2 separate regions of the Homo sapiens genome follow, and region 2 is linked to region 1. Evidence: fine-mapped expression QTL. Tissue or cell type: whole blood. Region 1 holds a variant in brackets; the other region holds the start of a gene. All regions are shown on one strand. Distances are from middle to middle.

Evidence for each region. PIP is the estimated chance that this variant, and not a neighbour inherited with it, causes the effect.
Region 2: FAM120AOS starts here. The variant in region 1 is fine-mapped to the expression of FAM120AOS in whole blood (INTERVAL, PIP above 0.99).

The regions. Positions count from the first base shown.
Region 1 is chr9:93,318,778-93,323,968 of GRCh38, reverse strand. WNK2 (WNK lysine deficient protein kinase 2) reads right to left here. Exons shown (of 30, transcript NM_006648.4): 30 at 3,400-3,602. The coding sequence ends at 3,577. Among named protein-coding and RNA genes, the nearest start is that of FAM120A, 130 kb to the left of the region's middle. The variant AG/G (reference allele first, on the strand shown) is at 2,347.
Region 2 is chr9:93,451,198-93,456,325 of GRCh38, reverse strand. FAM120AOS (family with sequence similarity 120 member A opposite strand) reads left to right here and starts at 2,745. Exons shown (of 3, transcript NM_198841.4): 1 at 2,745-4,179. The coding sequence starts at 3,617. FAM120A (family with sequence similarity 120 member A) reads right to left here and starts at 4,641. Exons shown (of 18, transcript NM_014612.5): 1 at 3,937-4,641. The coding sequence starts at 4,410. RefSeq lists enhancers at 2,545-2,839, 2,903-3,032, 4,612-5,128 and silencers at 3,752-3,931, 4,232-4,361, 4,502-5,031.

The sequences.
Region 1 (5,191 bases):
ACGTGGAGCATCTTCAAGATGACTTTGAGGGTCTCCATGGAGAGGGGGAGAGGCAGCTGGATTTATGGGTCTGGCAGCTCACAGAACCTTGAGCTGGTGATCAAATTTGGAGGGCTTGGGCTCAAAAGGATCAACTGTTAGGAACTGCTATTGCTCCAAAGCCCTCCTGCCCCGGCCCACACAGCCTCACTGGGAGGCAGAACCAGCTGGCGGCAGCTCCGACCCCTGCAGCCCAGGACCCTGGTCTCTGCTGTCCACCACAGTGAGAAATGAATGATTCTTCACAGAGTTGCATGGGACAACATTGTCTCCCCATCCAGCCTGGCCTCGGGCAGCCTTCGACCCCCAGTGTCCTCTCAGGGTGAGGGACTCTTCTCCACACCTCTGCAGGACTGCATGAGCCACCACCAGCACAGTGATGCCTGTGGCATGTGGGCCTTCTGCCCCCTCTCAAGGGCAAGTCTAATAAAGCCAAGTTCAGGGACCACAACCACGATGTGTACAGAGTGGTCACCATTGCTGAACTCCCTTAACCACCTGGAAGGCAGGCGTCCTGGCCCAGGCTTAATTGCATCCTCTAATGAATGAAGACAGGCTTCTTCAGGTGTTTTATTTTTGTTTTTGTTTTTTTTGTTGTTGTTTGTTTTAGAGACAGGGTCTCACTCTGTCACCCAGGCTGGAGTGCAGTGATGTGATCACGGCTCACTGCAGCCTTGACCTCTTGGCCTCAAGTGATCCTCCTGCCTCAGCCTCCCAAAGCACCGGGATTACAGGCATAGGTCACTGCGCCTAGCCTTACCAGCCCTTTAGTAATAAGCACTTTTCAGAGAATTGAAGCTGTTCAGCCTGGAGATGAGGCGCAATATCACCCTGGACACTGGAAGTCTGGTTGGATGCTGGGGTCAGCTAAAAACAAAACAACACTGGAGAGCAGAGGCTGTGGCTTGGCTGCCTTGACCCTGCAGGAGGAGCTTGGACTGGCCCCAGGTGATGCTGCCTTTGCTGTCCTAGGAGAGGCCTGGCAGGGTCCTTTCCATCCCAGAAATGCTGTGATCAGAGCCAATAAGCACCCACTGGAAGCTTCATCTGCCCAAAGGAGTCTGCCTTCATCAGCATAATTCATTGCGCGCCAGCTTCACTCAGTGACTGTTTTGGAAGGTGAAGGGCTATCAGAAACAATTTTAAGTCCCTGCTTTCAGGAAGTCAAGCATAACAAATAATATGCACCCATGAGAACTCTCCATGAGGGGCTGAGGTCTCTGGGGCTCTCGTGAGCTGTCCACCCAGACTGTGTGATAGAACCCAGAGGAGGAGAGAACCCGGGACTGGGAGGGTCAAGAATGAATCCGGAGCTGGGCGCGGTGACTCATGCCTGTAATCCCAGCACTTTGGGAGGCCGAGACAGGTGGATCACGAGGTCAGGAGATGGAGACCATCCTGGCTAACACGGTGAAACCCCGTCTCTACTAAAAATACAAAAAATTAGCCAGCCTGGTGGCAGGGCTGCCTGTAGTCCCAGCTACTCAGAAGGCCGAGGCAGGAGAATGATGGGAACCCGGGAGGCGGAGCTTGCAGTGAGCCGAGATCGCGCCACTGCACTCCAGCCTGGGCGACAGAGCGAGACTCCATCTCAAAAAAAAAAAAAAAAGAAAAAGAAAAAAAAGAATATCCGGGCCCAGCTGGCACGCTGTGCAGCAGCAGTGAAGCCTGAAGCACGGACGCGTCTAGTGGGTGAGGCTGAACACCAAGAGCCTTGGATTCTGCGGCTGAGGCTTGGGGCCTTTTCCTAGCGGCCCTGGAGGGCTGCTAGGTGGTTCTGAGCAGCAGATGAAGCTGGGATTCGGGGCCCCAGAGTCCTGGAAGTGCACTGTGCAGAATCTCCTCAGAGGGTGCTGGCTTGACCATTACCATTTCATTGACCATTGTACTACTGTTTACTACCATACTACCACCAAATTTTACCATTGACATTTATACTATTATTCACTTAAAGAAAATGATTAAAATAAATGTGCAGTTTGAAAGGCAAACTGCGGCCGGGCACGGTGGCTCAGGCCTGTAATCCTAACACTTTGGGAGGCCAAGGCGGGCGGATCACAAGGTCAGGAGTTTGAGACCAGCCTAGCCAACATGCTGAAACTCCATCTCTACTAAAAATACAAAAATTAGCCAGGTGTGATGGCGGCGCACACGTGTAATCCCAGCTACTCAGGAGGCTGAGGCAGAAGAATCACTTGAACCCAGGAGGCGGAGGTTGCAGTGAGCTGAGTTTGCATCACTGCACTCCAGCCTGGGCAACAGAGCAAGACTCGGTCTCATTAAAAAAAGAAGAAAAAAAAAAAAAAA[AG/G]AAAAGGCAAACTGCATTACTATGGTCCACAGAAAACCAGTCACATGAGCCACCAACAGAAGAGAACACAAACTAAGACCAAGGGAAGCCATGTTCCTAGCACCGTGCCATCCCTGCTCCCAGCTGAGGCTTGGAGGAGGCCTACCCTGCTGATCACACGGAGAAGAGCCAGGACTCCGAGGTCACCCGCACACAGCGGGATGGCATCTCCGACACTCCCGTGGGGAAGCAGCGTCACTGTGCCCTGAAGACTCATGTTTGAGATAGGCAGGCAGCGCTGCTCCATCAGCCGGCTGGACAGTTTTACATCTCAGGGAAGGGCACTGTGTCATGGATGTAAATGGCATGGCACAGCAATATCTGTGGTGTCTAGTGGTGATGAAGTCCAGGTGCTGTTAGTGGAGGAAATGCTAAATTGCAGTTAGACATTAATGAAAATAGAGATGCAATGCTTTTTCATTGTGATGCATGGGACCCCAAATTCTCCCTAGACCTCTGGACCCAGCATAAGGCTCCTGTGCCTGCTGGCCAGGCTAGGGTGTGGGGACCTTACCACGGCACGTTTCCTTGGTGAGGCCATGTCAACATTCCTCGTTTCTCACACTTAGGACCCCTCCCACGAGTGGGGGGTATGCAGCCCTCCAAGGAGCCAGTGGTCTCAGACCTGCCACCCCACAGCCAGAGGTTTCTGGCCCCAGGCCACTGGTGTTTTCCCTGCCAGTGCAGGTGAATTCTGGAAGGAGGGTGCCTGGGAGGTGGGTGTGGGGGTGGTGGGTGACTTCAAGCCTCCAAAGACCAGAGGGAAGGGTCTGCCTCATGGAGCTCCGTGAGCAAAGGCCAGGAGGCACCCAGGACCCCGAGTCCGTGCCAGCTGGCATCGGGGGGACTTGGAGATCAGCCTCCCCGGGGCCGCCACCTCCAGGGCCCTGCAGAGAACAGGGCTATCCTGAGCATGCCAGGGTCCTGGGAATGTCCCCCCACCCCTGTCACATCCCAGTCACCTGGCTGGCCGAGGGCCACCAGAGAGGAAATAGTTTGAAAAACCAAAGTCCTTTCTGCCCCAAAATATTTTTTATTCTTGCATTACATTTGTGTTTCCAATTGTGAATAAAAAATGCTTAGAAAGTGGTTACAAAACAGCGTGAACTGGACAGGAGGAGCAGCTGGCCCTGAGGGTCCGTCACTTCTCCACTTAGACGGCGTGAAGTGGGCCTGGCGTCTAGGCGGGGTCAGTCAGGCTTCTCACTCTCAGGATCTGGAAAACAAAACCGCGCAGCTGACTGTGGGCCCACCGCAGTGCTGGCCACTCGCCAAGGGCCAGGCCCTGACACCCTCCCAGGAGCTGCCGACGGGAAGGCTGCGCCAGCTCTGCCATGACCCACGCCCTGTGTAGATGGTCTTGTCCTCAGCACAGCCCTGGCGGCCTCTGTCACCTGGACCACCCTTCTTTGTGTGACCAGTCAGCACACTGAACGGCTGCCAGAAACCCAAACAGACGCTCTGCTCCTGTACCGTCTGGAGCATCTGGGGAGTGAGCTGCCCTCCAACACCCAAAACAGGAGGCTCTGGGATGAGTGTTCCTCCTCCCTCCATGCAGAAGCTCGAAGGCTGGCACTGCAGCTCTCTGAGGAGGTGGCCCCACAGCCAAGGCAGCCCCCACAGTGGACCGGGCAGGAGACACTGGGACCCTCAGCTTGCTCACAGTGAGGCCTGCAATGCACACGCAGGAGGGACCACAGTCAGCTCGAGGCTGTCTTTAGTGGGATGCTGGGGGGCTGGCTGCCACCATGCGCTGAGTCCCACAGGATGAGGCCCCACCCTGGATGGCCACCTTCCCTAAGGCCCCTGTGCCTACCAGAAAAGCCACTGCCCCTTGCATGATCCATGGGCAACCCCAGCCCCAAGTCCTCCTCTCAACAAGTCCAAGCTCATCTGAGGAGCTCCCACTTCCCCTGAGCTCGGCCCATCTGGAGCAAAGAGGGTGGCCCCAGGGGCTGCAGCAAGTAATGCAAACCAAGCCTCCTGGAGACAGGGGCTGCAGGTGTGTCTCGCTGACCAGGAGGCTGGCTCCCTCCATCATGGTCACAGCCCGTGGCACTGCTAAGTGTAATCAGGTGCAGAGTGGTGGGCAGCCCAGCCAGCTAACCCGACCAGCAGAGCTGACCGTGCTCGGGGCCCAGGCCACAGCTGGCGGGGGCAGTGTTGGGGGCCAGGCAGCCCTGCCAGATGCCCTGCTCTCAGACCCCTGCCGGGGACAGCCCAGCCCAGCACCCGCAGCCCCTCAGCACCCTCCTCCAGAGGTGTGGATGCAGCTGAGCCCAGAACTGGCTCCCAACTCCTGTGCTCCCTAGGAGGCTGGTTGCTTTGGATTTTATATGGATAGAGGGTAAGAAAAAGATGTTGTTTCACACTGTTTTCGAGCAAAAGTGTTTATTTTTCTCCTTCAGATATACAATCTATTGGGGATTCCGTGCCACTGACCACCATGTACAAGGAAGGGATTCACAGGCAAGGGGGACAGGTGAGGGCAGCCCCCACTTCACTCAAGGAACAGGGCAAGGGGGCCCAGTACAGAGAACAGAAATCTCTTACGACAGCATCGTGCCCTGGCAGAAGATTCTGCATAATCACCTAGAAAATTCAATTCTAACTGAATTGATGGAATAATAGATTTGAACCAAAATAATTTACCCAGTTCTAATAAGTACAGAAACTATACAATTCACAGCTGGGCAGTCCCAAGCAGTCTGCTTTCCAGTGGGAGGTGGAGGAGGCTGGGGCCTTCCCCTCCCACCAAGGGCTGTGTTGTGCCCACTGGGGACGAGTCCCACTGAAATCTCCAGG
Region 2 (5,128 bases), 130 kb before region 1:
ACACTGATACCACAAGTCATATAGCAGAAACATTTATGAAAGCTCCAGTGACTTCATGCCACTAAGATTTTAAAATAAACATAAGTCATTCACTGAAGTTTCAAAGGTTATAATGACCCAAGGCACACAAGAAGAAACACTGTCCAAGTAACTAGCTAAAGCCAAGTTCAAATTAGGCTATTTTAGGACCTACACAAAACTAGTCAATACATAGGCCAAAGTATTATTATTTTCATTGTTCTGGCTGTCTTTCCATGTAGACCAACTTCTAATGGTTAAAGAAATACAATTACTACTACTGAACAAAAAAATACAATTACTACTCTGTAAAAGAAATAATCTCTAAATCAAAAAAGATTTCTCCTGGCCAGGCGCAGTGGCTCACGCCCGTAATCCCAGCACTTTGGGAGGCCGAGGCAGGTGGATCACGAGGTCAGGAGCTCAAGACCAGCCTGGCCAAGATGGTGAAACCCCGCCTCTACTAAAAATACAAAGATTAGCCAGGCATGATGGCAGGCGCCTATAATCCCAGCTACTAGGGAGGCTGAGGTAGGAGAATCGCTTGAACCCAGGAGGTGGAGGTTGCAGTGAGCCGAGATCGCGCCACTGCACTCCAGCCTGAGAGACAGAGTGAGACTCCATCTCAAAAAAAAAAAAGATTTCTCTAAGCAAAGGTAACAGGAAATTATGCCCCTCTGCCAATTTACAAAACACTAGAAAGCACCAATAAGATGCTTAAAGTTTTTATAAATGTCTCATTTACTCAACATTATATATACTGAATTGTTCATGTCAATTCCTTTGCCAGTGGTTTTTACTTAATCTTAAAAAAATTATCATATGATAAAATTAACACATTTACTTTGGATGAATAGTTCTGATTTTAATGTATGGTAGCATCACCACCATCAGAATACAGAACAGTTCCATCACTCCACAAAGATCTCTCCTGCTGTCCCCTTTATGTGTACATCCTTCCCCTCCTCTACTCTCAGCACCACTGAATTGGTCCCTATCACTATAGTTTTATAATCATCCCTTTTGAACCTGGCTTCTTTCACTCAGTATAAAACCTTAATTAAATATTCATGCAAGTTGTTACCTACACCAGCAATTCCTTCCTTATTATTGCTAAGTAGTATTCCATAGTATGGCTATACTGTAGTTTAACCATTCACTTATTAAAGGATACTTTGTTTCCACGTTTGGGCTATTATGAATTAAGCTGCTATGGACATTTGAGTACCAGTTTTTGCACAAACAAAAGTCTTCATTAGGAAAATACCCAGGAGTGGAATTGCTGGATCGTATGATAAATGTATGTTTAACTTTATAAGAAAGTGCCACTGTTTTCTGGAGTGGTGGTGCCATTCTGCATTCCCACAAGCAATGTGTAAGGATCCAGTTGCTCAGCATTCTTGCTAGCACTTGGTATTGCTCATATTTTTTTCTCTTTTAGCCATTCTAATAGGCATGTAGTGATATCATGGTTTTAAACGTTTTAACCACTTTATGGGTATCTTTTATTAAATGGTATACACTGTTTCAATCCCTTAAACAGAGAATGCTGAATATTAATTTTTATGACTCAAAATCATCCTTATAGAATAAACATTGTACTACCCTCAGGGACCAAGGAAGTACATAGGGTTGTTTTCCTTTTCTTAAAATAGCCCCAGAATTATGTTTGCTTTTTATAGCTTTTTAAATCTCTCTTGTCACTTCTTGCTATTAATGGTGCTCCTGCCTCTGGCAGACTCTCCTCTTCATCCTCTTCTCAAGCTGAGTTTAGAAAATAGATAACCAAGCTTGTTAGAATTACATATGAAAAGAGGCCAGTCCATGAGTGAGAGAGCTTAAAGGATTCTTCAGTGAGGAAAGCAAAAGCACCCCCCTACACCCGCCAACCCCCCACATCACTGTACCCAAACTTCCTGACATCTTGCTTGGTTGCTGAGAAATTTCTAGTAGCTAAATCTCTTAGGCACTTTTCAAAAAGGTAAGGTTGCCAGCTAAGAGACCACCAAGTAATTGAGTTATTACAATATTCATTTTGTGCAATTCGCACTATAATATGACCCTAGGTCAATAATTAAAAGCTTAGCAAAAGCAAAATACAGACAAAATTATCCCATTATCCCGTGTCCAGAAACCTAAGTGAAAAAGACGATCTTAAATGGAGCTTAAATCTAGTTTCCTAACACTGACACATTGGTCTGAATTCTGAGCACCTACTAGGTGTGCGAGGCATTCAAAGGGGTGCAAAGATAAAGAAACTGTAGAATTAAAAAGAACTCAACAGTTCTTTAAAGATACAGTGACCATATGCATACATACTGATTCTAATCCTAAGTAATATTCACAGTGTTCCCTTGAAAGTCGCTTGACTAGTTAAGTAGAGAGCTGTGCGGTTACCAAAGGCAAGTCAGTGCAGCTCATCCTGTCTTTTAAGTAGTCTTTTCCATCTCTGAACAAGACTAAACTATGAACACTTTTACGCTCTATTAGGGAGATGGATCGCTTCAGACAAATGGCAGCACCTTACTTCCCTGAGCGCCCCAGGCTCCGATTCAGAAATTAAAAGGCAGGCACTTCCTCTCACCCGAACTTCCCTGAGGAATGGCAGCTGTGTGTCTGCCAGGCGCAGGGGCCAATCGGGACTCTGCCGGCCGCCTCCACCCACGACTTAAACACCATCTCACCAATTGCAACCGGATCGTGGGTGGGACTTCCGCTATCATTTTAGGCTTAACTACCACCATCTCCTCGCGGGCAGTGGGGGCAACCGCGAAGACAGAATTTCACAAACTTTCAGCTCCAGCAGTTTCAAGGAAATGTCAAATGACAAGATGGAAGACCGAGTGTCAAGAGCTAAGACAACAAAAAGGCCCCCAAAATTTGTTTTCAAGAAAACCAATGAAAAAAGCAAGCAATCAGAACGTGAAGTCCAGGATCATGGATGTGCTTATCTTCACAGTCACTGCTGGGTCCTGAAGTTCTCCTCTGGCCCAGTGCCAGCTGCGAAGCCCTCTGCCAAAGGGCCAGAGGAGGCCGGTGATATAGAGCTCTGATTACCCACCCGTCAGGGCACCGCTGAAGGTCACTGAATACTTACTGTGCACCCGAAAAATAAATCCTGCGAGTTCACGCCCGCGTAGTTCGCCCCCTGATTTTGAGCGACTCCTTTCGCATGGGATCTACAAAACCGAACTGCCTTAAAGACCTCTTTCACACGGACGTGAAGTCACAGAACTGACAAAATCCCATCCTGTCAAAGTGCACGGGTCTTTGAAATCTAACACAAAAAGCCATAGAAAGATTCTCTAAACACCCTGTACTAAGAGGAACACGGACAGGGCACTGCGTTCTGAAGTAGAGGCCAGGGCACTGGCCCTTAGACACGTCTCGCTGTCACCGGGCTAACAACATTGGCAAGGGCGGCGGCAGCAGCACTGATATTTGCAGCCCCCAAGGGCTCTGGCGAAACCCCCTCTATTACTCTGTATCCTGCCTGCTTCCAAGATGAACCTGTTGCTGGGAAAGAACAGGCTAAATTAGAAAAGGGAGTATTTTGTCAAAGTTGAAGGTGAGTGATAGCCTGCCCGCCTCAAATAGGATGGGAAAAACTAAGGATATTGGGGATGATGACACTGTCGCCTCCGAATTCTGGTCCGGGGCTCTCTCCCAGCCCTCAAGTGTCCCCACGCGGCCGCGGACCCCGAACAGGGACAGCTGGAGACGGGCTTGGGCAGCGCGCGGCCTGCACCCGCGGCCATCCATCTTGCAGCCCGGCCCGGCCAGGCTATCCCGGGCAAGGGCTGGGGGAACTCGCTGCCCCCAGCGCCGCCACGGCCGGGCGACATTCTGCGCCCTGGGAAGGGGGATAGGGGTGCGGCGCGGCCCCGGTCCCCGGCCCGCCCGGATCCCCGGCCTCACCTTGACGTGGAAGCGGATGAGCGCCAGGCGGATGCAGTGGGCCATGCAGACGGGCGGCAGGAACCAGACCTTTGGCGGCGGGGTGCCCTTGTTCTGGACATGGCTGACGATCTGCTGTGCCGTCTGGCGCTCGTTGCCCTGCCGCTTGACCCACTCGTGCAGCCGGGCCTTCTCGAGCGCGCCGTTGAAGAAGACGAAGAGCTCGATGTTGCCGCCGAAGCAGGCCTTGGCCAGCGCCGCCAGGTAGCCAAGCATGTGGTTCCACTGGCCGCCGCTGACCCAGTCGGTGTAGAAGCCGCCGTAGAGGCGGTGCAGGCAGTTGTCGGCGTCCACCAGCAGGCGCAGCGGGGTCTGCGGGGGCCGCTGCCGCCCGCCGCCCACCAGGCTGCCCCGGGCCAGCTTCTGCAGCTCCACCGGCACCACGGCGCTCGGGCAGTGCTTCTCGATGTAGTCCTGGAAGCCCTGCACGCCCATGGCGGCGGCGGGGGCGCGGGCGCGGGTGCGGGCGGGGGGCGGCGGGGCCGGGGGTGGTGGGGCCGTGGCGCGCGGGCGGGCTGGCGGGCGGGGGCGGCGGCCTCTAGGGGGGACTGGGGCGGGTCGGGGGCGCGCTCATGGCCGCCGCGGCCGCCATGTGCTGCCGCCTCCCAGGGCCATGTCTGGGGAGGGACCTGCCGCCGCCGCCGCTGCCGCCGCTGCGAGGCCGAGGCCGAGGCCGAGGCTGAGGGCCGGGGCGGGGCGGGCGGGCGGCGCTGACGTAGCGGACCCGCCCGGCGCGGACGCCGCCCAGGCCCGCCGGCTAGCAGGCGGAAGAGGCGGCGCCGGCGGGACGCGGCTCGGGGCTCCCGGAGGCGGCGGCGGAGGCGGAGGCCCGGAGTTGGGCCGGGACGGGATCCGGGAGGCTTCTGAGCCGGAGCAGGCAGCGCCTGGAGGCCAGAGGCCGTTCGCCCGCCTCAGGCCGGTCGGCCGCCGCTCCCCTCCCCTGCGCCCTGTTCCCGGCAGGGCCAGAGAGGCCGCCGCCTCCGCCCGGTGGTTCTCGGGCGAAGGGAAGCCGCGAAGCAGGTCCTGGGGAAGAGCTCGCCTGCTCCTGAGGGAAGCAGCGATAAGATGGCGCTTTGAAGGGGAGCCGAGGCCGAGTCACTCTGTTCGTCGGGACGCCGCCTTTCTAACGCCGCCGTCGGCTCGCACCACTCTG